Linked DNA regions of Homo sapiens: all the other regions are reported to be linked to region 1. The links are microRNA targets in miRTarBase. Many come from high-throughput screens and were not tested one by one. Region 1 holds a microRNA gene; each other region holds the end of a gene's coding sequence.

Region 1 (3,081 bases):
GTGCAGGGGGAGGGGTTTCTGTTTTATGCAACAGCCTCAGCTTCTGGGAAAGGGTCCATTGTGTAAGACCGGGGCTATGGCCTGTGCCCCGTGGCTCAGGGCAGCCAGCCCAGTGGTGGCAGGAACACTGGCAGGGCAGCCTGCTGTCGGCTTAGAGGGGATGGGCAGTGTGGAGGGCCTGGCAGAGCAAGAGGACTCATCCTTCCAAAGGGACTTTCTCTGGGAAGCCTGCTCCTCGGGCCACTGCGAACCCTCTCTACTCTCCGAAGGGAATTGTCCTTCCTGGCTTCCACTACTTCCACCCCTGAATGCACAGGCAGCCCGGCCCAAGTCTCCCACTAGGGATGCAGATGGATTCGGTGTGAAGGGCTGGCTGCTGTTGCCTCCGGCTCTTGAAAGTCAAGTTCAGGTGGTGCTGAGACTCCCTGGGGGCTGCAGCGCTGTGGTGAATGGGGAGCGTCTGCTGGGGTGAAGGTTTAGGTGCACATTGCAGAGGACGTGGCTGGTCTCTGGGATGCAGTCCCTCTGTGGAGGTGGCATGGGGAGGGACGGATGCATGACCTAAGGGGGGTATTTTCAGTGTCTGACATGATCGATACCACTCTGGACAAGGAGGCCAGGATGCAGAAAGCCTGTGTGCCTCGCTGATTGTCGGGGAGGATGTGGCTTGGACAAGAGCCTGGTTCCTCCGATGCCAGGGTTCTTGTTTCTTCCACTCAACATTGCTGTCCTGCAGTCCCTCCCTCCCTGCACCTCCTGCCTTCGCTTTCATTCGAGGTGTCCATGGCAAGTCTGGTCATTTCCCCCCATTTCCTCAGGAATAAAAGTGCAGCAGTGCCTGCTGTGGGGACAGCTGAGGGCAGTGAGGCCCTGGGGAGCTGCTGCAGGCAGCAGGTGGGCGGGACGCCAGCAGGCTGTCTAGCTGTTCCCATGATGGTCTCCTGTTCTCTGCAGAGGCGTGCAAAGACTCCAGAATTGGAGGCATGATGAAGACTCTGCTGCTGTTTGTGGGGCTGCTGCTGACCTGGGAGAGTGGGCAGGTCCTGGGGGACCAGACGGTCTCAGACAATGAGCTCCAGGGTGAGTAGACCAAGCATGATGTTCCTCTGGCCACAGGGTGATGAGGTCAGAGGGCAGGGTAGCTAATTCTGCTCAGTGCCTCTCTATCAGGCCCCAGTGTTACAGACCGTTTTTATCTTGTGCACTGGGTCTGGGTGCCTGTGTCTGGGCCCACTCTGAGCCTCAGCTCCGAGGCCCCTGGTTCAGGCTCTGCGTGCATCAGACTGCCGGCATTTGCAGGCATTTCCCAAGCACTTTCGGCTGTTGCATTTCATTCAGCTCTTCCCCTCCCAGGCCCCTTAGCCCAGCTCCCAGGCCTCCTCCACGAAGCTGTGTCTGGACCACCGGAGCTCTTATCCCTCTCCCCTTTGGAGTGCCCAGAGCTTATCCCTCCTGTGAGCTGACGGTTTCTGCAGGATCATTGTTAAAAACCCAGATCAGACATGGGTGTGAGTCTGTTTCACCTCTTCTCAGCTGGGTGACTTTGGGCCACTATCTTGATCTCATGACACTCCCCCCACCCCCCATTTTATTGAGATATAATTAACAAATAAAAATTGTGTATATTTAAGGTATATGACGTGATGTTTTGAAATGCACATACATTGAAATGATGACCACTTTTTATGGTGGGACGGTGGGAAGACTTAAAATCTACTTTCTTAGCAAATTTCCAGTTATGATATGGTGTTATTAACTATAAGCACCACCTGTATGTTAGACCTCCAGAACATACTCCTCCTACCTGATGAACACTTTGACCCTTTATCATATCACACTTCCCATGTCTCCCTCTGCGAAGTGGGCACGGCGGGGGGCTGGAGCATTATGTAAACTGCACATGAAGTGTTTGGCGCAGTGCTTGGCATGGGATAAACACCAGTGAAGTAGCACTTAGGTGACACAGTGTTTCGCTGCATTTGTCACCAGTGCTATACCTTACTCATTTACTCATCTTCTTATTCCTGTCGCCTGGCACTGCATTGGAACAAAGAAATACACATATCTGTTTAAACTGAACTCTAGAAAGATTTGTGTCCAAAATAACAATATTTTATATTTTGATGCTGCAAAGCTGACACTTCTGGGTTTTTTTTTTTCCTTGCCAAGTTTCTTCTGCACCCAGCTCATTCTCCAGGGGCACATGGCAGTGGCTGGGCATAACTCTGGGTGTGCCGGCTCCCATGGTCTGCATTTCTAAGCAGTAGGGTGCAGTCAGCAAGGAGCCTGTGATGGGAGCCTGTGCCAGGGCAAGGCTGGGGCCATGCTGCTGCCTGCTGGCAGGAGTGGGGGTCCCAGCCTTGACAGCCCCTGAACTGAACGGGCCTTTCTGGCCATCCAGCTCATTCCAGGGTCCTGAGGCCACCTCTTCCTCTCGCCTCATTCTGCCTCTTGCACTTCTCTTGCAGAAATGTCCAATCAGGGAAGTAAGTACGTCAATAAGGAAATTCAAAATGCTGTCAACGGGGTGAAACAGATAAAGACTCTCATAGAAAAAACAAACGAAGAGCGCAAGACACTGCTCAGCAACCTAGAAGAAGCCAAGAAGAAGAAAGAGGTCAGGAGGAGCCGCTACCGCCTCCCTGCCTTGACCATCCCACTGGAGGGGAGGGAGGGGGTCACTGCGCGGTGCCCTGCTGGGTTGCCATGGTGACCCGCAGTCCTCCCAGGCTGTGTCAGCTGATGCTGAGGCTGCAATTAAGAAGCAGGGAAGGTTCATTTGCTTCTGAAAGCATCAGGGAGTGAGATCTTGGATCTGGTTTTGTTATGAGCCTGGCCCAGGGCCTAATGCCCAGATTCATTTCAATAGATGTTTCTAAGCCCTGATCACATGCTAGTTCCAAGCAGGCTCTGGATGGGGTGGCGGCAGGGGCCCAGACAGGCGTGGCGTCCAACCTTCAGGAAGCTTATCTAATAGGGGTGATATGGTTAGGGTTAAGGCAGGCACACAGCACCCCACGTCTTGCTAGAGTTCTGGACTACTTCATAAAGAAACATCTTAAGCCCAGTAGTGGATATAGC
Region 2 (3,081 bases), not on the chromosome of region 1:
CTCGGGAGGCTGATGCTGGAGAACTGCTTGAAACCGGGAGGCGGAAGTTGCAGTGAGCCGAGATCGCGCCACTTGCGCTCCAGCCTGGGCAAGAGTGGGACTCTATCTCAAAAAAAAAAAAAAAAAATGCTAGATGCAATGAACCATGTAAAATGCACTGCATCTCCACTTTCACAAAGTTTCCAAACTACTGAGAGGAAAAGAGTGAACATGGGAAAAACATGAAAATATAATCTCTGTATTTTATTTTACTGTATCACTCTGTTAATTCTTTGTTTGCTTATCAGTCCTTCCCCAGTTCCCCAAAGAAGGGAATGGACTTTATCTTCTTACTCTTTTTCTCTATTTGTGGAATTCACTGTAATGAATAATTATGTTAATTTTCTAGAACAGAGGTCCCTCCAAAGTACACTAAGTGCATAAAGAAACATTTATCTCCTCTATGGGGAACAGAAAGACTTTGGCAGAGGAATTACCAAGGGCAGGCCTTGAAGGATTTGACAGAAGAGAACAGTGAGGAAGTTTAAAGAAAAAAAGGAAGTTTTTACAGATGAGAAAGTATGAAAATAGAGGAGTACATCACATATGATAGGTACTCCCTGCATACAAGTTAATAAAAAGAAGAGCCTGAATAACCTGAGAATATAATTTATGGAGACAGAAATGGAGGATTTGAGCAACTGAAGGGGAGGTTGTGCTGCATAAACTACATGGAAAAAAGTGATTGAGTAAGCAGTTGCAACTGCTAACGTTTTAAGGCAAACTACCTTGGAAGGTACCAAACATACCGTGCCCTGCTTTCTTCTCTTTGGGATAATGTCTATTGTGTCCATTTAAGGACTTTAATGATTCTGTAATTTTTAGTTAACATCAATTTAAGGACTTTAATGATTTTAATCCATTAAGAACTTTAATGATTTTAATCCATTAAGAACTTTAATGGATTAAAGGACTTTAATGATTCCATAATTTTTAATTAATATGAACAACTTCATTCAAGCATTACATTTATGGGTAAGGTGAAAAATAAGAAATCTAGCAGAACAACATGCTTTTATTTTACCATCATGCATAAAAAGGAAGACAAATATGCCAATGGTACACTTCCAATTTGTCAGAGCAATTTCACAGTATTTAAGCAATTTAGGAAAAAAGATATATCACTTACTAAGTTGTTACCAGGGAAAATTATCATGTAAGACAATCAATTAAACCATACTTTTGTAGATTATTTTTCCATGAAGGCAATTTGACAAGCCTAACAAAGACCAAGTTGTTCAAACTATGTTTCTAGGAATATAGTTTAACAGAAACAAGAACAAGTTGAAAACTGTTATGACTATTCATATGTCTCTATATTGTACAGGCAAGTAAGACTGTTGTTCTTCCAAATGTTCCCAATTGAAATCAAAAGAATATCTGTACAGCTCAATTTTCACAATAAGTTTAGAATCAGAAAAAAAAATTTTACTAAATCCTAATGAAATAACAATCTTCCACATAAATTAGGTCACAAAACAAGTAAGAAAGCATTCAAAGTTGCGCTGTCTTTCTTTAAAGAACCCTTGTCTAGGCAACATATTTAACACTTTAACCCCTTCAATTCTCCCTGAAAAGTATTTTTCCATTCATCATCATTGGGGAGTAAGTACTCCTTCCTCGAAAGCTCTTAACGACAGCACAGTCTTCACTCTAGGCCCAATTTTTACCTGGCCCATGCCTCTAGCCTTTTGTTCAGTTTCTCCTGCTTAGGGCACCTTTCATCCCATCTAGATGTGTCTCTCTTTAACTATTCTAGGAGTTGATAAAAGGGCTAGGAAGTAGGAAGTTGGGAAGAAGGGGAGGGGCGTAAGAGCTCTAGCACTCTATTTTACAGGCCAACTTCTTTGCCTCTGAAAATGACAGAGCCAAAATGAAATAAAAACCTTGCTTTTACAAATGTTTCTGAGCTATCACTTTTTTAAGAGAGGATTGGGAGGCTAAGGAGGGCGGATCACGAGATCGGGGTTCGAGACCAGCCTGGCCAGCATGGTGAAACCCCGTCTCTACTAAAAATATAAAAATTAGCCGGGCGTGGCGGCGCGCGCCTGTAGTCCCAGCTACTCGGGAGGCTGAGGCAGGAGAATCGCTTGAACCCGGGAGGTGGAGGTTGCAGTGAGCCGAGATCGCGCCACTGCACTCCAACCTGGGCGACAGAGCAAGACTCCGTCCTCCGTCTCAAAAAAAAAAAAAAAAAAAAAAAAAAGGAAAACAGGGAGAGAGAGGGACCTTGGCAGGAGCCAATGTAGGGCAGGTAGCAATAGAAAGTGACTAGAGGTGAAGGAAGAGCAATGAAGTACCATAAATCACACAGAACAAGTGGCTCACTGCTTTTCTCCTCTGAGTTCATTAACGTCCAGTAACTGTCCACAGGGCATGTGCCCATACTGCTCAATGCAGAGCTGAGTAGGTGGAACAGGCTCCCAAAGCTAGAAATCCAAGTGACAGCAACCAGTTCAGAGGCCCTGGGAATAAACAGGGTCCAAGCAGTGCAGATAAAGGCAGTACAATCTACAGTATCATTTGCTTGGCTTACAAGTAGTGTGAAGGATGACCTCGTAGCATGTGATATTCCAGAACAGCATGAAGGTCATATGGAAGTGGAGAAGCATACCCACCACCGTCTCAATCTTGAGGTTGAGAGAACTGAATATCCAAAGGAAACAGGGTGCAGAAAAGTCAGCAAAAACAAAGCACAATAGAAGGCATACTCATTGCTGATGCCCAAGCACAGGTCCAGCAGAAGGTGGTAGGAGACCTTGTGCAGGAGTATTCCCAAGGGCAAATGTTAACCAGACTGGAACCCAAAGGGCCTGGGGATCTCTACAGGCTCCCTTAGCGGGCGACGTCGGGCTCTACGGACTCCTTCACGCAACAGGTAGTATTGCAGTGGATTTGGCCACAGATCCTCTTTAATAATCTCAGCAATTTTGTCGGACTCTGGAAGGCTGTGGTCTGAAAACCAAGTGAAGAAGCTGCAGATGAGGTCTTGGTTTCTGCGAATGAAGGACTGGGGTTCATGCCCCCTGCGCCATATAATTG
Region 3 (3,081 bases), not on the chromosome of region 1:
GGTTGGGCCGCAGGAGTCCTGTTGACCCATTTTAAGTTTGAGATCTCCATTTGTTTATTCAAGTGGTTATATCTTATGTCTGGGGTTTGGGCTGCAGATAAAGATGTGGATGTCATCAGTGATGCTATTTAGAGAATCTGTGATGTCTGGAGAGAACAGGAAGCCCAGGGTGTACTTGGGCAGGCTGCTATCTTGGGAGAGCATGTGGGATTAGATACTTAGGTTTGGTTTAGGGGAGCCACTGTGGGGGTAGTGTGACAATATCTGGGTTGGAAACTTCGGAGCATTCACCAGGAGCCAGAGGAAATATCTGGCTCTTCATGAAGTTGGTATCTTGAAAAAAACTGATGGTCTACTAACTCCAACCAGTCTCCCCATAAGTCACCCCAGCAAAGAGATCCAGGGTAGCCCTGCCCCAAAACACACACACACACACATACCCTACCTACCTACCTACCTGGTAAAGATGGTGGTTCCCAGGATGGAAATTTCTGCTTCCAGACTCAGAGTAGGTTGAATGTCTTATTAGACCAGGGGTTGGCAAACTTCTCCTGTAAAGGGCTAGATGGTAACTATTTTAAGTTCTGTAGGCCTTAAAATCTCTGTTGCAACTATGCAGATCTGCTGTTCTAGGCAAAAGCAGCCATCAACGATACATAAGTGAATGAGTATAAAACTGTTCAAATAAAATTTTATTTGCAAAACCAGGCAGCAGGCTAGAGTTGGCCATAGTTTGCAGACCCCTGTCTTAGGCTGTAAATTCTGTTGCATGTGACAGAGACCCAAAATAATGGTGGCTTAAATAAGATAGAAGTTTCTTTCTTAGATAGCAATATGGAAGTGGGCTGGTATGGTGGCTGTGCTCCTTGAAATTGACGAGAGACCCAGGCTCCTATCTTGTTGCTCTGTCTTCCCACGTGTTGCTCTTATCCTTATGGTCTGAGATGGCTGGATACCATTTCCGTATTACAGTTAGGAAGGTGGAAAAAAGGTATGTCCCTTTCTTTTCTTTTTTTTTAAACAGTCTCACTCTGTCACCCAGGCTGAAGTGCAATGGCACGATCTTGGCTCACTGCAACCTGTCTCCCAGGTTCAAGCAATTCTCCTGCCTCAGCCTCCCAAGTAGCTGGGATTACAGGCATATGCCACCACACCCGGCTAATTTTTGTATTTTTGGTAGAGACAGGGTTTCACCATGTTGGCCAGGCTGGTCTCAAACTCCTGACCTCAGGTGATCCACCGGCCTCAGCCTCACAAAGTGCTGGGATTACAGGCGTGAGCCACTGTGCCCAGCCGTCCCTTTCTTAAGCTTGACTGTTCTACCCAGGAATTTAGCCAGAAATCAGTCACAAGGCCACATCTAGCTGCAAAGGAATCTGGGAAATGCAGTCTTTTCAGCTACTGTGTGCCTAGCTAAAAACAGAGACAGTGATCAGTCTACCACATCCACCTCACCTGTGGGCTTTAAAAACATCCCTCAACATAAACAGAGTCTATAAGTATTATATGCAAGGCATCGACCATTGTCTGCAGGTGCAGGGCAGGTAACTAAGGGGGTAAAACTGGCCTGGTGGGACTCATCTCCAGTTGAGGGTGACACCCACTGCTCCCTCCAGCCTGTTGTAACTTCTGTCCTGCCCCTGCTGACAATGTCAGCCTAGGTTGGGCCTTTCAAGAGAGCTGAAAATAGGATCTTAATGGGAAATCTCCCAGTGTTGGCCAAATAAAACCCGAAACAGAAGGTATCTCTGTTTGATTCCAAACCAGTTTCCCCACAAAGCGAGGCCAACTCTGGCCTGAGTTCCCCCACCTGCCCACACCCTTATGTTCTCTGGAAATTCCCACTCAAAAGCCAGAGCTCCCTGTTTAGACATTTTAATATGGATGTTTTCTGTTTTTAGATACTATTCCTGTTAGCTTATTCATACCATTTCACCTACACATATGAAAAAAATATTTCAGGACTAGAATGATATACAAAATTATTTCAACGAGACATAAATTATCGGGGGACTAGTGCCATCTAGTGCCATGGCCCCTCTAAGTGAGGATGGCAGGGGGTGGAAAAGAGACACAAGGACTCCAATTGCTACCCCCACTCAATTGGGGTCCAGCTCCCAACTTTGCTGCCCCATCCCCAAAAGCCCAAGTTGCTCCACATCTGGAACTCACCTGGTGGCATTACAGGCCAGCAACACCTCACCTTTCCTGCCCCCATTCAGGCAAAGGTCCAGGGCAATTTGCTCCCATAGCCCATGGCATCCATCTGGGAAGAATGAAGGGTGATGGCACAATCTGCAGCTAGGTATTTAACTGGGAATAAGGGAGACACAAACCATTTCTCTCCCGCACTCCCTTCCCATTTTTTTTTTTTAACAAAAGATCTCATTATTATCTGATTTCACTGTCTCACGAAGGCCCTGTGTGCTCCAAAGACTGAAGCTCTAAATAAGAATCTTCTGGGTCCTCTTTATTAAGAGCCCTCTGCCTTCCCAGGGGAGGGAAGCAAATCCTTCAGGGCCCCCAGAGTTCCTGCACCCCATATCATGGGTGAGTCCTACCAGCCACAGAGCCACCCGTCACCGTGGAGAGGCTTAAGCTGCACTCAGAGCTCCCCCCGGGCATGCCGAATGTAGTGTTGATGCAGCCCTGCTTCCTGAGCAAAGTCCTGACCGCACTCTGTGCAGGCGAAGGTGCCAGGAGGGGCACGGACCTCATGCATCTGGCGGTGCCGCCTCAGAGAAACAGCCTGCCCAAAGGTCTTGCCACAGTCAGGACAAGGGAAGGTGGGCTGGGCAGTAGTGGTTGCAACCGGCAGGGTGGGCTTGGCGGCTGGACCGTGGCTGCGCTGGTGGGTGATTAGGGCTTTGGAGGAGGGGAAGGAGCGGGCGCAGGTGAAGCAGATGAAGAGGACCCCCTGCAGCTTCTGGGCCACGAAGTCCGCTGGGTGCTCCCGCTTCATGTGACGCTCCTGGAACTTGGAATCTGCGAAGGTGATGAGGCAGCGGGTGCACTTCGGGGCCCCCAGGTGGCCTGAGGAATGTGGGGGAGAGGTCAGGGGAGGCCAGCAGGAGTCTCCAA
Region 4 (3,081 bases), not on the chromosome of region 1:
ATGAAAAAGGTAGCTTTCAGACAACTCAATTATAAATCTGAATTGTTAGAGTACTTATTCTAGTTATAATTTTTATTCATCAATACCTTTTTTTTTGAGACAGAGTCTCACTCTGTTTTCCAGACTGGAGTGCAGTGGCACTATCTCAGCTCACTGCAACCTCTGCCTCCCAGGTTCAAGCGATTCTCCTGCCTCAGCCTCCTAAGTAGCTGGGATTACAGTCACGCACCACCACGCCCGGCTAATTTTTGTATTTTTAGTAGAGACGGGGTTTTGCCATGTTGGTCAGGCTGGTCTCGAACTCCTGACCTCTTGACCTACCCACCTCAGCCTCCCAAAGTGCTGAGATTACAGAAAGGGAAATATGAAAAAAATGTGATGCAGGGGTCAAAGCTTCCTTTAGTAAATATTCTTGGCTGGGCGTGGTGGCTCACACCTATAATCCCAGCACTTTGGGAGGCCAAGATGGGTGGATCACCTGAGGTCAGGAGTTCAAGACCAGCCTGGCCAACATGGTGAAACCTCGCCTCTACTAAAAATACAAAAATTAGCCATGCGTGGTGGCGGGCACCTGTAATCCCAGCTACTTGGGAGGCTGAGGCAGGAGAATCGCTTGAACCTGGGAGGCGGAGGATGTGGTGAGCTGAGATCGTGCCACTGCACTCCAGCCTGGGCAACAGAGTGAGACTCTGTCTCAAAAAAATAAATAAATAAATAAATATTCTTAAGTGGCCATTACGTTTTTTGTGTTGTTCAGTGTACGTATCCAGGGAGTATTTTTATGAGAAGAAACTAGTAATACTTATTTTCTCTACAACATTTAAGTAGAACCATAACTAACTTCCCATTAACAATAAGACAGGAATTAAAGTTGAATATGTTGTTTTACTATCATTTAGAGTCTCTGTGCTAAGCCAATTCTGGGACTGCTTTTCCATCTTTCACATTAGAATCAATAGTGTTTACAAATCTGGACAAATGCTATGAGTTTAGTAATACTAAATTCAATGATGATTAATTTTTCGTAATCAGCTGCCTTCTTATGCAAGTTTTCATGGCATACAGACTGTCAAGAGAGTATTCTAGGATAGCAACATCTCTATTACCAGATTTTTTTTCTGGTTAAATAATCCAATTGTTTTTAATGAAAGATATTAGACAAAAAAAGTTAGGTCAATTAGGTAACATTTGGTGCAGTGTAAGACACAGGCAGTGATGCAATGCCAACTTGAGAGCAGATAAAAGAAGACAGTGAATTCTAGATGTGATACTTTATCAAATTGTAAAATTTTATAAAACCTTACTAAATTGATATGCAAGAATTTCCAAAGGAAATTTATTTTTGAAAAACTGCATTTCATTTTTTAAATTCAAAACATCTCTCATACTAGAAAAGCTATTTTACAGTTCAATAAGCTAAATTTTTAAAAAATGATAGAAGACTCACCAAGGCAACATAAATAAGTTTCCAGGCTAAAAAAACTATCCTTCTGCTTTCCAGACTTTACTATAAACATAAGAATCACAGTATAATCCTAGCATCTCAAAACTAATATATTGAAAACATTTGGTAGTTGAGACTTTCTGAAATCAGTTTTTTGAACTTTATTTTACAATCAGGGATGTACTTTTAATTTTTTACAACATTTTCTCCCTAGAGATATAATTTAGATATTCCTATCTTCAAAGTAAAAATCAAAATAGGAAATAAGCATAGAAACAGCCTATTGGCAGTGGTTACACCTGCATGGTATTTATGAGTCTCCAAACTATTGGAAATTTATTTCAACCAAGGTTCTCTTAAGTCTTCATTACTTGGGTGTAACTCGAGAGAAAACTAATTTATATCAATTTACAGTTTAGTGGTCATGATCAGGGGAAAGTGATACTCTTCCACTGACTACAAGTCATTGCAGAGGCAGTTTAGAACTTTTCCTTTATTCCTAATATACAGGACAAACCTTGCCGACATCTCACTACCTCGAAAATCAAATTTAAATGAAGTATCCAGGAGTAGCCTAAAGAATGAGTGTAATCTGGATGGATTTTAGTCTAAATTTATGCCTTGCTCTTCAGTAAAGTATAGTAACTCCAGATATATGTTCCACAGATGCAATAATTTCTGTTCCTTGTTCGGTGCAGAATATAATTTATACTTCCTGAAATCAACTTTGTCTATTCATGAAAATAGCTGCTTTTTATTTGCCTTTGTCTCACTTTGAATATATATGATCCACAGGTTACAGACTTTTCCAATAACTACATTTCAACTTGTACTTCATCAGCAAACATTTGAGAGGATGTTATTTCATAGGTTAACTATTTTGAATTCATTGTTGATCAAGTTAGTAGTAGTGGGCAATTTTCTTATAGAAAGCAATTCCAAACATAATGAGCAGATGCTTGCCAGCTCTAATCAATAAGCTGTATGCCTTGTCCTTCTCCCTGTATCTGAGGATCATATACTACTTTATTGTCCATGTCCTCATGCAACAGACACAAGGGATTACTGGAAAGAAAAAGATTACAGGATCAGATTTGTCCTTCCCCCACTCCAAAAGGCCAAAACATTTCAACAGCTATGTTTTCAAGTAAGATTTATATCCTACAATATCCTTTGAGGTTTTCTTACTAGAATGAAACACATTTTAGGAGAGTTAATGATTTCGTTGGAGCGGGGAGAAACAGGCAAGTCACAGGATTTTCAAAAAGTATAACAATTCAGGTAAGAATATACATTAATTAATGTTGCCCTAAGTTTTATCAGTTAAAATTTTTTTTTAATTTCAAGGGAAGAGGCTTTAACATGAGAAATACAATATATCCCAGTCCATTATCTACATATTCTTCATTTTGGCCATGAGGTCTTCCAAGCTTTCACCAGAATCTTCCACTGTTAACTCAGTGACAGAATCTTCTTGCTATTGACAAATAAGGGAAATACAGTGAAAAAAGAACCATATAGAATTCTTGATGCTTAGGAATATATAATCAGCAAGTTTTGACCATGCTCAACAAGGTTATAAAGTAAATTTTCTTTAACAACTATCTTCTAATTTTTAGAAGAAAGACAGAGTCTTT
Region 5 (3,081 bases), not on the chromosome of region 1:
TAAAGGCTTAAGTAAATAGAATTCAGCATTCGTTTCTGTCAGACAAATAATTTCATTGCACATCTAAGACTTCCAAAGATAATATCCTTTATTCTGCTCATTTTCTAGGCGTTCACAGATTCCCCTCCTATTGTTTGATTACAAATTCTACTAGCAAATGACACCTGCCACAGTGGAACTGCTTAGCATCCTTTACTAGTAGGATTATAGCTCACATTTGTGGAGCTCTCGTATATACCAGGCACCATGCTAAGCAGTTCACATTGATAATCCTATTTCTTCTGCTATGATATAAATGGGGTTCCACTGTGTGGCCTAATACGGGCAGCAACAACTCTGATGACCTGGAAGAACTCAGCCCTCTCACTCTTGTCTTTAGGTGGCAGCTTGGCAGGCCCCAGTGACTTTCTCTAAGGACCCTGAAGCAAGCTTTTCTCCTAAAGTAATTGTACTCGTTGATTTTTTTATGTGCTGCAAATATTTTCTTCCATATCTGTCATTTGTGTTTTAACCTTGATGTTTTCCATCACACAGAGACTTTCGATATTTTTTGGTTGCGAAATCTGCTTATCTTTTCCCTTATTATATCTTTTAAGTCTCATGTTAAAGTTTAGAAAAGACCGTCCCACACCAGAGGTATAAAAATTTTTGAGTAATTTTGTGGTATATCTTCCCTCTGGAACTAATTTGTATGGACACTGTGAGGTAGAGATCTAACTTAGTGGTTTTTTTTTTGGCTGTGTCACCCAGGCTGGAGTGCAGTGGCATGGTGGCATGATCTAAGCTCACTGCAACCTCCGCCTCCCAGGTTGATGTGATTCTCCTGCCTCAGCCTCCTAAGTAACTGGGATTACAGGCGCGCGCCACCATTCCTGGCTAGTTTTTGTATTTTTAGTAGACACAGGGTTTCGCCATCTTGGCCAGGCTGGTCTCGAACTCCTGACCTCAAGTGATCCACCCACCTTGGCCTCCCAAAGTGCCGGGATTACAGGCGTGAGCCATCGCACCCAGCTGAGATCTAGCTTTGATAGCTAGTTGTCTAAAAGTGCTGTTTATTAAATAATCCACCTTTTTCCCCACTTAAAACATCCCTCTTACCATATACTAAATTCCTGTAGCCCTGGGTCTGTTTCTGGACTCTCCCGTCTGTCTGACCCCCTCCAGGTCACACTGAGTGAGGTAATGGTGGCGTGAGAATCCTCTGGGAATCTGGCAGGATCACCCCCGAGCAGTCCACCCCCCAACTCATTATCATCGTTCAGAGTGGTCTTAGTGTTCTCACACATTCACTCTCCCAAATGCACTTTAGAACTGTCAATTCCAAAGTTTCAATCTCATTGGAATTACACTGAATTTATCAGCTGATTTGGGGAAAACCAGTATGTGGACAGGAACATGATGTGTATCATTGGGTTGACTTACAGAATACTCTTAACAGGTCTTCAGTTGATTCTTAGGTTTTACAGGTAGGCAGTTTTATTGTCTACAAATAATGACAATTATAATTCTTCCTTATGTTCCTCATCTGGCTTGTTGCAGGGGTTAGTAGTGCCGGGACACTGCTGAATAATAGCTTGCCCTTGGCTAGTTTCTGACTTTAATGGGAATGCCTGTGGCGTCTGACTCTTTAGAATGCCATCACTGTTGGTTTCTGAAACAGACCTTTATCTAGATTAGGGTGTTTCTTTCCAGACTTAATTTACTAAGAGTTTTAATAAGGGATGGATTTTAAATCTTACGAAATACCTTTTCAGCATCTATAGAGCTATCATAAATTCTTCCCTATTAATTGAAGCTGAAATGAAGGCTCCTGCACAGCCATACTGCCTCCTCATATACTCTACATGCCCCTAGTCCCCTGTGCCAGGAACTGAATACCTCTGCAGATAGACTAAAGGTGAGGCTTCAAGGTCTGCCTGCTAGGCGTGGTGCTGAACGCCTTCTCAAGCTGCCCAAGCACATGGAGTCTTGGAGGCTTTCCTTTCCAGAGAAAGAAAGTAGGACCAATCCCCACTCCCTGCCATAATAAGAAAGAGCCCTTGGGGACAGCAGCATACAGAGCACAGAAGCCAAAGAGAATTCAGGCAGGGTGAAGGACCCCACACCCCTGCCACCATCCCACAAATCAGTACATAGGCCAAGTGCCCAGTTTGCCAGGGGTCTTGCTACCTGAAGTGACCTATGATCTCTGGCCATGACAATCTCTAGCGAGTCCTTCCTGCCATTCTGCAGCCTGTTAGCCAATGCATGCAGGCCAGGCGGCACTTACTGCAAAGCCATCACAGAAAGCAGCGAGGCCTTCAGACTCCTAGGAGAAACAGTGATTCCTTCTACTGCTCCATCCCCACTGCTAACTCTGGGTCCCCACCCCTGTCCTCCCAGAGTCACTCTGATCCTGCTCATCACACCAGGACATGGAGTCTCTACATAACCACAGGATTCCCCTAGAGCCTGCTGTTGCCACAGTGACCCTGATGCTGGGCTGTTACCCACTTAGCCTCCCTTACCTCTTCTGTCTGCTTCCACCACTTCTATATCCCTGTTTGGAAAAAGGATGGGTGCCTGAGCCTGTGCCCAGTTGGGTGTCCACTCACAACCCAAAGCAGAGCCTGGCACTGCCCACTCTGACCAAGGGCCTTCTCTCCCTGATCTCACTGGCGTCTGCCCTATTTACCCATCACTGGGTTTGTGGGTTGCGCCGAAAACACAGCAGCAGCAATAAACAGAAAATGAGGGCAGAGCCCAGTGTGTCACAGTTCTGGGAGGCAGATCGGGATGGGATACCCGTGTGGCTTGTCCAATGATCTTCATGTTAAGAGGCAGTCTCTGTGAATGAACTTTCTCTTCAGGCCACAAGAAGCCCTAACCCAAGCGGAGGCGAAAGGTAGCAATCTCCATGGGCTCCAAATAGACGTCAGTGCTGTTGGACGGGGAGGCCAGAGGGTACAGTAACGTCAAGGAGGTTGGCTGAAGGAATACCACATCCAGGCCATGGAAAAGGCTGCCCAGGGCTACCTGTGGAGAGCAGAGAAGGGGCAGGGTTGTGCTAGGTGCCGAGACACTAAAGAATGTGGCTGTTCA
Region 6 (3,081 bases), not on the chromosome of region 1:
CCCACCCTGCTGAGACAGCCTGACACAAACATCCTGGTGAAGCCACAAGGAGACCACCTTGATTTTCACGCAGGGAGGTCTTGGTTTCACAGCTTGGTTCAAGTTTCCTGAGGTGTCAAAACTATCTGATACCTCTTCGGAGCCAAAACAAAGCAAGCAGCTCCCGGAGGCAGATAAACTTAGGCTCCAACTCCTTCTAGAAGCTGAGTGAAACCACTCCTTCCTTGTCCAACTGGAAAAACCTAAGAAATAGGCCTCTCCAGGTCCCTTCTGGTCTTTGAGATAATTCTCTAGGAGAGCTGTGGCCATGCCTGCATTAAAACAAATGCGACTGGCCAGGAATGCAGTGTAGAATTGAAACATCAGGGCTGAGTGATTCATTCCTCTTTACCCAGTTTTTGTTTTGTTTTGTTTATCTGTCTTCCCTCTTGGGGAAGCCTCCACCCAGTTCTCCCATCCAGGCCAGTGGGTTCTGAACCCCCTCCTTCCCTCCTTCAGCCATCCCACTTGCCCTGCTTGGGCCTTTTCAGCAGTGTGTGTCACATCATCATCAGATGGAACCAGAAGCAGCCAGGAGTGCTTTTTGGCACTTCCAGCTCAGCCAGTACCGTAGAGGATCCAGGGTTACTATCCATGGTGAAAAGAACTTTCTCTAGAATTGGTATTAATGAGGTTAAGTAACTTAATTTCCACCAACAACTTATCCAGACATTTAAAAAGGCAATAGAGATAAACAGCTTAGTAACAACAGATTGGCCTTCAAATTTCAGAGTATTGTTTTCTCCCTAACTGAGCTGTCTGCTTGACTGGTTAGTCTAATAAATGCACGGAGAAGGTGCACACACAACACAGTACTTTTCACTATTTAACACCATGATCATGTGGAATACATTAGAAAGGAAATAGGTCAAAAACCATCATGTGAACCGTCTAATTTGATGTTTGGGCTAAGGCTAAAATCTTCACAGGGAGGTTCTAAAGTGCTGAAATGCAGAACATTCAGGCTGACTGGTTCACCCACACCAGAGAGAGAAACTCAAGTGGGGCTGGGAGGGCAGGGGGGCCCAGAAGTGACCCAGGAATAACCTGCCCTTGTGTTCATTTCCAGAGACCAAAAAAAAAAAAATTTTTTTTTTTTTTTTTTTTTTTTGAGGCAGAGTCTTGCTCTGTCGCCCAGGCTGGAGTGCAGTGGTGCGATCTTGGCTCACTGCCACTTCTGCCTCCTGGGTTCACGTGATTCTTCTGCCTCAGCCTCCCGAGTAGCTGGGACTACAGGAGCCCGCCACCACGCCCAGCTAATTTTTGTATTTTTAGTAGAGATGGGGTTTCACCATCTTGGCCAGGCGGGTCTCGAACTCCTGACCTTGTGATCCGCACACCTTGGCCTCCCAAAGTGCTGGGATTACAGGCATGAACCACCACGCCCAGCTCAGAGACCAAAATTAAAGAATCTCAAGTAATTAACTACTGTAGCCAGGTTTACAATATAGTACCAGAGTCTCAGGGATGGAAGGAATTCATCATACAAGATCCTGGTCACCTTAACCTGGCCTCACAAAAGCCATCTTTTCAAAATTGAACCATCACTATAAAAAGAAAATTGGTGTCAGTGAGTCCCAGGAATACACATAATAGTTTCTTTAAAGGCAGGGCTAATTGGTGACACATCTCTCTTGGAAAGACACATGTACCACAAACAAAAACAGGATCCAACCACTTGTATCTAGATAGTTATCTTTCTAGGCAGAAAATCTAACATTCAGTAACTAAACCAAATCCCAGAGCCTCAGCAGCCAAAATGGCCCTAGCTGACATTTCATCCAGCCTCATTTTATAGAGGAGAAAGTAGAGGCCCATATCTTGTCCATAGTTGTACACCTGGGATCCAGGCCAGAATTCTTATAGCTACACGGGCCTGGGATCCAGCATTTTAGGTTGAGTAAAATCATTTCCTGCTAGGTCCCTGATTCTATTGAGAACCAGGGCTAAGGCTTTATGGATTTGGGAAAACTTAAGTTTCTATTGCAAACTTCAACCAGTGGGTCCCAGAGGTGCTTTGAAGTCTCCGGCTTCCACATTTGACCACAAAGTGCTGCTTATGTCCTGATGCTTACATGATTCAGTTAAGGTGCTTTCCAAACCCGGTGACAACAGCTGGGGCCTTCATCTCCAGTAAGTTTCCTGATGAGCAGCAGAGGTCTATACTTAGGGTTCCTGTGAAAAACACAAACTCCCAGTCTCACATTTGGTCACACTGAAGGTTTGGCCAAATTATTTCATACAAGTAGTTCTCACTGGCCAAACAGGTGGTTTTTCTCCTGGAAAAGTGGGATCAAAGTGACTTTGGTCCTGATTGTTCTTGCTTCCAAGATGTGTAAGAACCAGATCACCACCCCCCAACCAAAAAGCAAAACAAAATAGATATAGCCTCCAGATTAATAGTTGCAGACTGGGATTCCAAATGTTTAAGAATCAGTGGGGACATTTTCCATGTCTTCCATGGAGTAATTAAAGTAACCAAAGGCTTACCCCAAAATGGGCTCATGCTCATATCTCAGGCTGTTCCTCCATCCTGCAGTTTAATTACAAGGAGCAAGACTGAATCCATGGACCCTTAAATTCTCCTTGTGCCTCTCCAAAGAAAAGAAGGAAAAGAATTAAAGATGGTGACCCTGGGGGACGGGCTAGTAGCAGGAGTACAGCTGTGACTTCACAGCTCGCAAGGAGTCGTCACACTGTGCATCTGAGGTCAGGCCCTCGGGCAGCAGCGTCTGGCCCAGGATGCTGTCACAGGCAGGAACAGGTTGGCAGAACTCTTTCACAAAATCGTCTTCTGAAGCCAGCAGTACCGCGTTCCAGGTGGCAGTGTCCAGCTCCCCAGCCGTGCCCCCATACTCCTTGGGGAGGATGCTTCTTGGAAGGTTTGTGTGGAGAGAGTTCAAGTCAGACCCATGGAGGAAGAACTAAAAGGGAATGAAATGAAAACACACATGTCCTTAGGTTAATCAGGAATGCAGAAATCTCCTCCATGGTAGGTGCTCAAATAAATATCTGTTGAATGAAGAAAGGAAATGTTAATGG
Region 7 (3,081 bases), not on the chromosome of region 1:
CTCACACCTGTAATCCCAGCACTTTGGGAGGGTGAGGTGGAAGGGCCATTTGAAGCGAGGAGTTTGAGATTAGCCTGGGCAGGGAGACCCTGTCTCTACAAAAAAATTTAAAAATTAGTGGGCTGTGGCGGCATGTGCCTATAGTCCCAGCTACTTAGGAAACTGAGGTGGGAGGATTGGTTGAGGCTTCAATGAGCCATAATTGCACCACTGCACTGCAGCCTGGGCAACAGTCTCAAAAAGAAAATTTACAGAATAAGCCAATTCCTGGTAGAGAGAAGTATTAAGTTTCCATAGAGTTTGAATTAATATATTTTCCTTTTATTGCCAGGTTGGGTATCTACAGCCATTGGTTGCTGTTCAGGTCAGCTTTGCTCCTAACAACACTGGGAAAGAAGTAACAGTTGAGTGCAAGATTGATGGATCAGCCAACCTAAAAAGTCAGGATGATCGTGACAAGTTTTTGGGACGAGTTATGTTCAAAATCACAGCACGTGCATAGTATGAGTAGGATATCTCCACAGAGTAAATGTTGTGTTGTCTGTCTTCATTTTGTAACAGCTGGACCTTCCATTCTAGAATTATGAGACCACCTTGGAGAAAGGTGTGTGGTACATGACATTGGGTTACATCATAACGTGCTTCCAGATCATAGTGTTCAGTGTCCTCTGAAGTAACTGCCTGTTGCCTCTGCTGCCCTTTGAACCAGTGTACAGTCGCCAGATAGGGACCGGTGAACACCTGATTCCAAACATGTAGGATGGGGGTCTTGTCCTCTTTTTATGTGGTTTAATTGCCAAGTGTCTAAAGCTTAATATGCCGTGCTATGTAAATATTTTATGGATATAACAACTGTCATATTTTGATGTCAACAGAGTTTTAGGGATAAAATGGTACCCGGCCAACATCAAGTGACTTTATAGCTGCAAGAAATGTGGTATGTGGAGAAGTTCTGTATGTGAGGAAGGAAAAAAAGAAAATAAAAGTGTGTTTGAAAAATATTATCTTGGGTTCTTTGTAAAATTTATTTTTTACATGCTGAATTAGCCTCGATCTTTTTGATTAAGAGCACAAACTTTTTTTTGTAAAACATGTAAAAAAAAAAACTGGGATTAATTTTTAGTGTTGGAACTGCCTCTTATTTTAGGCTGTAGATAAAATAGCATTTTTAGGTTAGCCAGTGTGACTATGCACCTAATTTTTTATGAGATTAAATTCATAAGACTTAATTTGTACAATAGTTTGTGAAATATCTTGTTACTGCTTTTATTTAGCAGACTGTGGACTGTAATAAAGTATATAAATTGTGAAATATAAAAACTTGGAACTTATTCAAAGCTTCAAAGCAAACAACAGTTTTGTGTAAGCATTCTTTCCCCTCCAGTATTAGGTGTATTCTTGGTAGGATTATTTGTGATAATTTGGGCTACTTGGCTGAGAAAGTTGTGCTTCCCATATGATCTGTGTTGCTTCTTGTTTTTTCTTAAGGCTGTTGTTTATTGTTACTTTTCTCCTTTTTTAAAAAAAAAAAAAGGCAGCCGGGCGCAGTGGCTCACGCCTGTAGTCCCAGCACTTTGGGAGGCCGAGGCGGGCGGATCACAAGGTCAAGAGATCGAGACCATCCTGGCCAACATGGTGGAATCCCGTCTCTACTAAAAATATAAAAATTAGCTGGGCGTAGTGGTGCGTGCCTGTAGTCCCAGTTACTCGGGAGGCTGAGGCAGAAGAATCGCTTGAACCCAAGAGGCGGAGGTTGCAGTGAGTCGAGATCACACCACTGCACTCCAGCCTGGTGACAGAGCGAGACTCTGTCTGCAAAAAAAAAAAAAAACGGCAAAGCAGATATTCTTGAGGTTTTCTTTGTGGTGGTGCAAGCCAGAAGGGGTGGGACCCAACCCAGCTGGCTCAAGAATGGCCGTTTGGAGTAAACGTGAGGGCTCTGGGTGGCCTTGCCTGGCCAGATGGGCCTTGGTGGCCTGGCGGCAGCCTCTGCCCTTTAGTAGTGGGCACTCAGCCCCACGTCAGAGCTCTGCTTGTTCCTCTGTCACTAAAATCATAGTGATAAGAGATTTTCACTGAAGGAAATTATTGGAGTAATTACAGCAAACCTTTTCTGGGTTTTGATTTTCTTCTTTATGCTATCTCTTAAGAGTGTAAAACAAGGATAAAAGAATGCTACGATGTGAGAGAGGTGACATGACTTTAGTTGGGCCAGTGTGACCTCATCCTCAACAGCTGTAAACTTTGGTGCCTGTGAAATTCATATTAAGTATTCTATTAAATTGTATTTTTGAGTCTTTTGAAGTAAATATGGATGGAATTTCTGTTTTAACGAGCTTAGATAAAAGACTCATTCTCAATACACAAGAAGAATTGAGATGGCATCCAACATAGGGTGGGTGTTGGAGACAAATAAAAATGGCACACACATGTAAGTCACTAAAGCATCTTGTATGCCTCCCTGGTTCAGAAGTTTGGACGTGGATCAGCACCTGACTGCCCAGTGATCTTAGCTGATCTCCCCAACTTCTCCTGGCTCTGCTTGCTTCATCTATCGAAATTAAGGCAGTTTAACAACAATTTAGCAGACCTGCTATATACCGGACTGGATCAGCCAGACTTTGAGGATACAGAGATGAAAAGACATGGTTTCTCAAAGATCTTAAACTAGGAGGGAACAGGCTCTGAGACACAGCACGTGGCATGATGATGGTGATGGCGCTGACATGCAAGAGGCCATGAGGTGGGGTAAGACTAGATTATTCCAAAGGTCCCACCCTTCCCTAAAGTTTATTTTTGTGAAAGATCTCAAGAGATAGGTGGTGCTTGATGGAGGAGGAAGAGTGGCTGGGAGTTGGGCCTGTATGGGCCAGGTAAGGACTGGACTCGGAACGAAGGATGCCTGGACACAGCTGGAGTCCGCCTTTCTGCTGCTGACTTCAGGTTTTCCTCAGCATTTCAGGATGTGCTTACAGATCACCTGGGTATCTCATTAAAATGCAGATTCCAGTTCACTAGGAGGGACTCTATAGATGTAGCAACTCCAAGGTAATACCTACCACTGCTCATTCACAGACCACA

The links. Region 1 holds the annotated microRNA hsa-miR-6843-3p (AUGGUCUCCUGUUCUCUGCAG, at 934-954, shown strand). A microRNA usually pairs through its seed, bases 2 to 8, with sites in the 3' UTR of a target mRNA and lowers its output. Matches are read on the target gene's strand: a 7mer-m8 pairs with bases 2 to 8, a 7mer-A1 pairs with bases 2 to 7 and ends in A, and an 8mer does both.
Region 2: miRTarBase lists TSPYL1 as a target of hsa-miR-6843-3p. The part of its 3' UTR that is shown has no 7-base or 8-base seed match.
Region 3: miRTarBase lists ZNF576 as a target of hsa-miR-6843-3p. Seed matches in the 3' UTR shown: 7mer-m8 at 1,209-1,215.
Region 4: miRTarBase lists UBA5 as a target of hsa-miR-6843-3p. Seed matches in the 3' UTR shown: 7mer-m8 at 292-298.
Region 5: miRTarBase lists MAN2A2 as a target of hsa-miR-6843-3p. Seed matches in the 3' UTR shown: 7mer-m8 at 927-933.
Region 6: miRTarBase lists TTPAL as a target of hsa-miR-6843-3p. The part of its 3' UTR that is shown has no 7-base or 8-base seed match.
Region 7: the mRNA of ATP1B3 is a reported target of hsa-miR-6843-3p. Seed matches in the 3' UTR shown: 7mer-m8 at 586-592.

The regions. Positions count from the first base shown.
Region 1 is chr8:27,608,474-27,611,554 of GRCh38, reverse strand. It overlaps MIR6843 (microRNA 6843), which reads left to right and starts at 804; the gene lies at 804-954. CLU (clusterin) reads left to right here. Exons shown (of 9, transcript NM_001831.4): 2 at 955-1,080; 3 at 2,469-2,617. The coding sequence starts at 984. RefSeq lists enhancers at 406-1,113, 1,820-2,526.
Region 2 is chr6:116,275,690-116,278,770 of GRCh38, forward strand. It overlaps TSPYL1 (TSPY like 1), which reads right to left. Exons shown (of 1, transcript NM_003309.4): 1 at 1-3,081. The coding sequence ends at 2,828. It also overlaps a transcript of DSE not described here. Among named protein-coding and RNA genes, the nearest start is that of TSPYL1, 2.7 kb to the right of the region's middle.
Region 3 is chr19:43,598,783-43,601,863 of GRCh38, reverse strand. It overlaps ZNF576 (zinc finger protein 576), which reads right to left. Exons shown (of 3, transcript NM_001145347.2): 3 at 707-3,033. The coding sequence ends at 2,606. Among named protein-coding and RNA genes, the nearest start is that of ZNF576, 3.7 kb to the right of the region's middle.
Region 4 is chr3:132,676,283-132,679,363 of GRCh38, reverse strand. UBA5 (ubiquitin like modifier activating enzyme 5) reads right to left here. Exons shown (of 12, transcript NM_024818.6): 12 at 1-2,921. The coding sequence ends at 2,838. The region is part of intron 26 of NPHP3-ACAD11 (NPHP3-ACAD11 readthrough (NMD candidate)); the gene reads left to right. Among named protein-coding and RNA genes, the nearest start is that of UBA5, 17 kb to the right of the region's middle.
Region 5 is chr15:90,919,569-90,922,649 of GRCh38, reverse strand. It overlaps MAN2A2 (mannosidase alpha class 2A member 2), which reads right to left. Exons shown (of 23, transcript NM_006122.4): 23 at 71-3,015. The coding sequence ends at 2,863. Among named protein-coding and RNA genes, the nearest start is that of HDDC3, 11 kb to the left of the region's middle.
Region 6 is chr20:44,489,145-44,492,225 of GRCh38, reverse strand. TTPAL (alpha tocopherol transfer protein like) reads right to left here. Exons shown (of 5, transcript NM_001039199.3): 5 at 1-2,963. The coding sequence ends at 2,685. Among named protein-coding and RNA genes, the nearest start is that of TTPAL, 15 kb to the right of the region's middle. RefSeq lists an enhancer at 2,122-2,231.
Region 7 is chr3:141,925,200-141,928,280 of GRCh38, forward strand. ATP1B3 (ATPase Na+/K+ transporting subunit beta 3) reads left to right here. Exons shown (of 7, transcript NM_001679.4): 7 at 332-1,350. The coding sequence ends at 502. Among named protein-coding and RNA genes, the nearest start is that of ATP1B3, 50 kb to the left of the region's middle.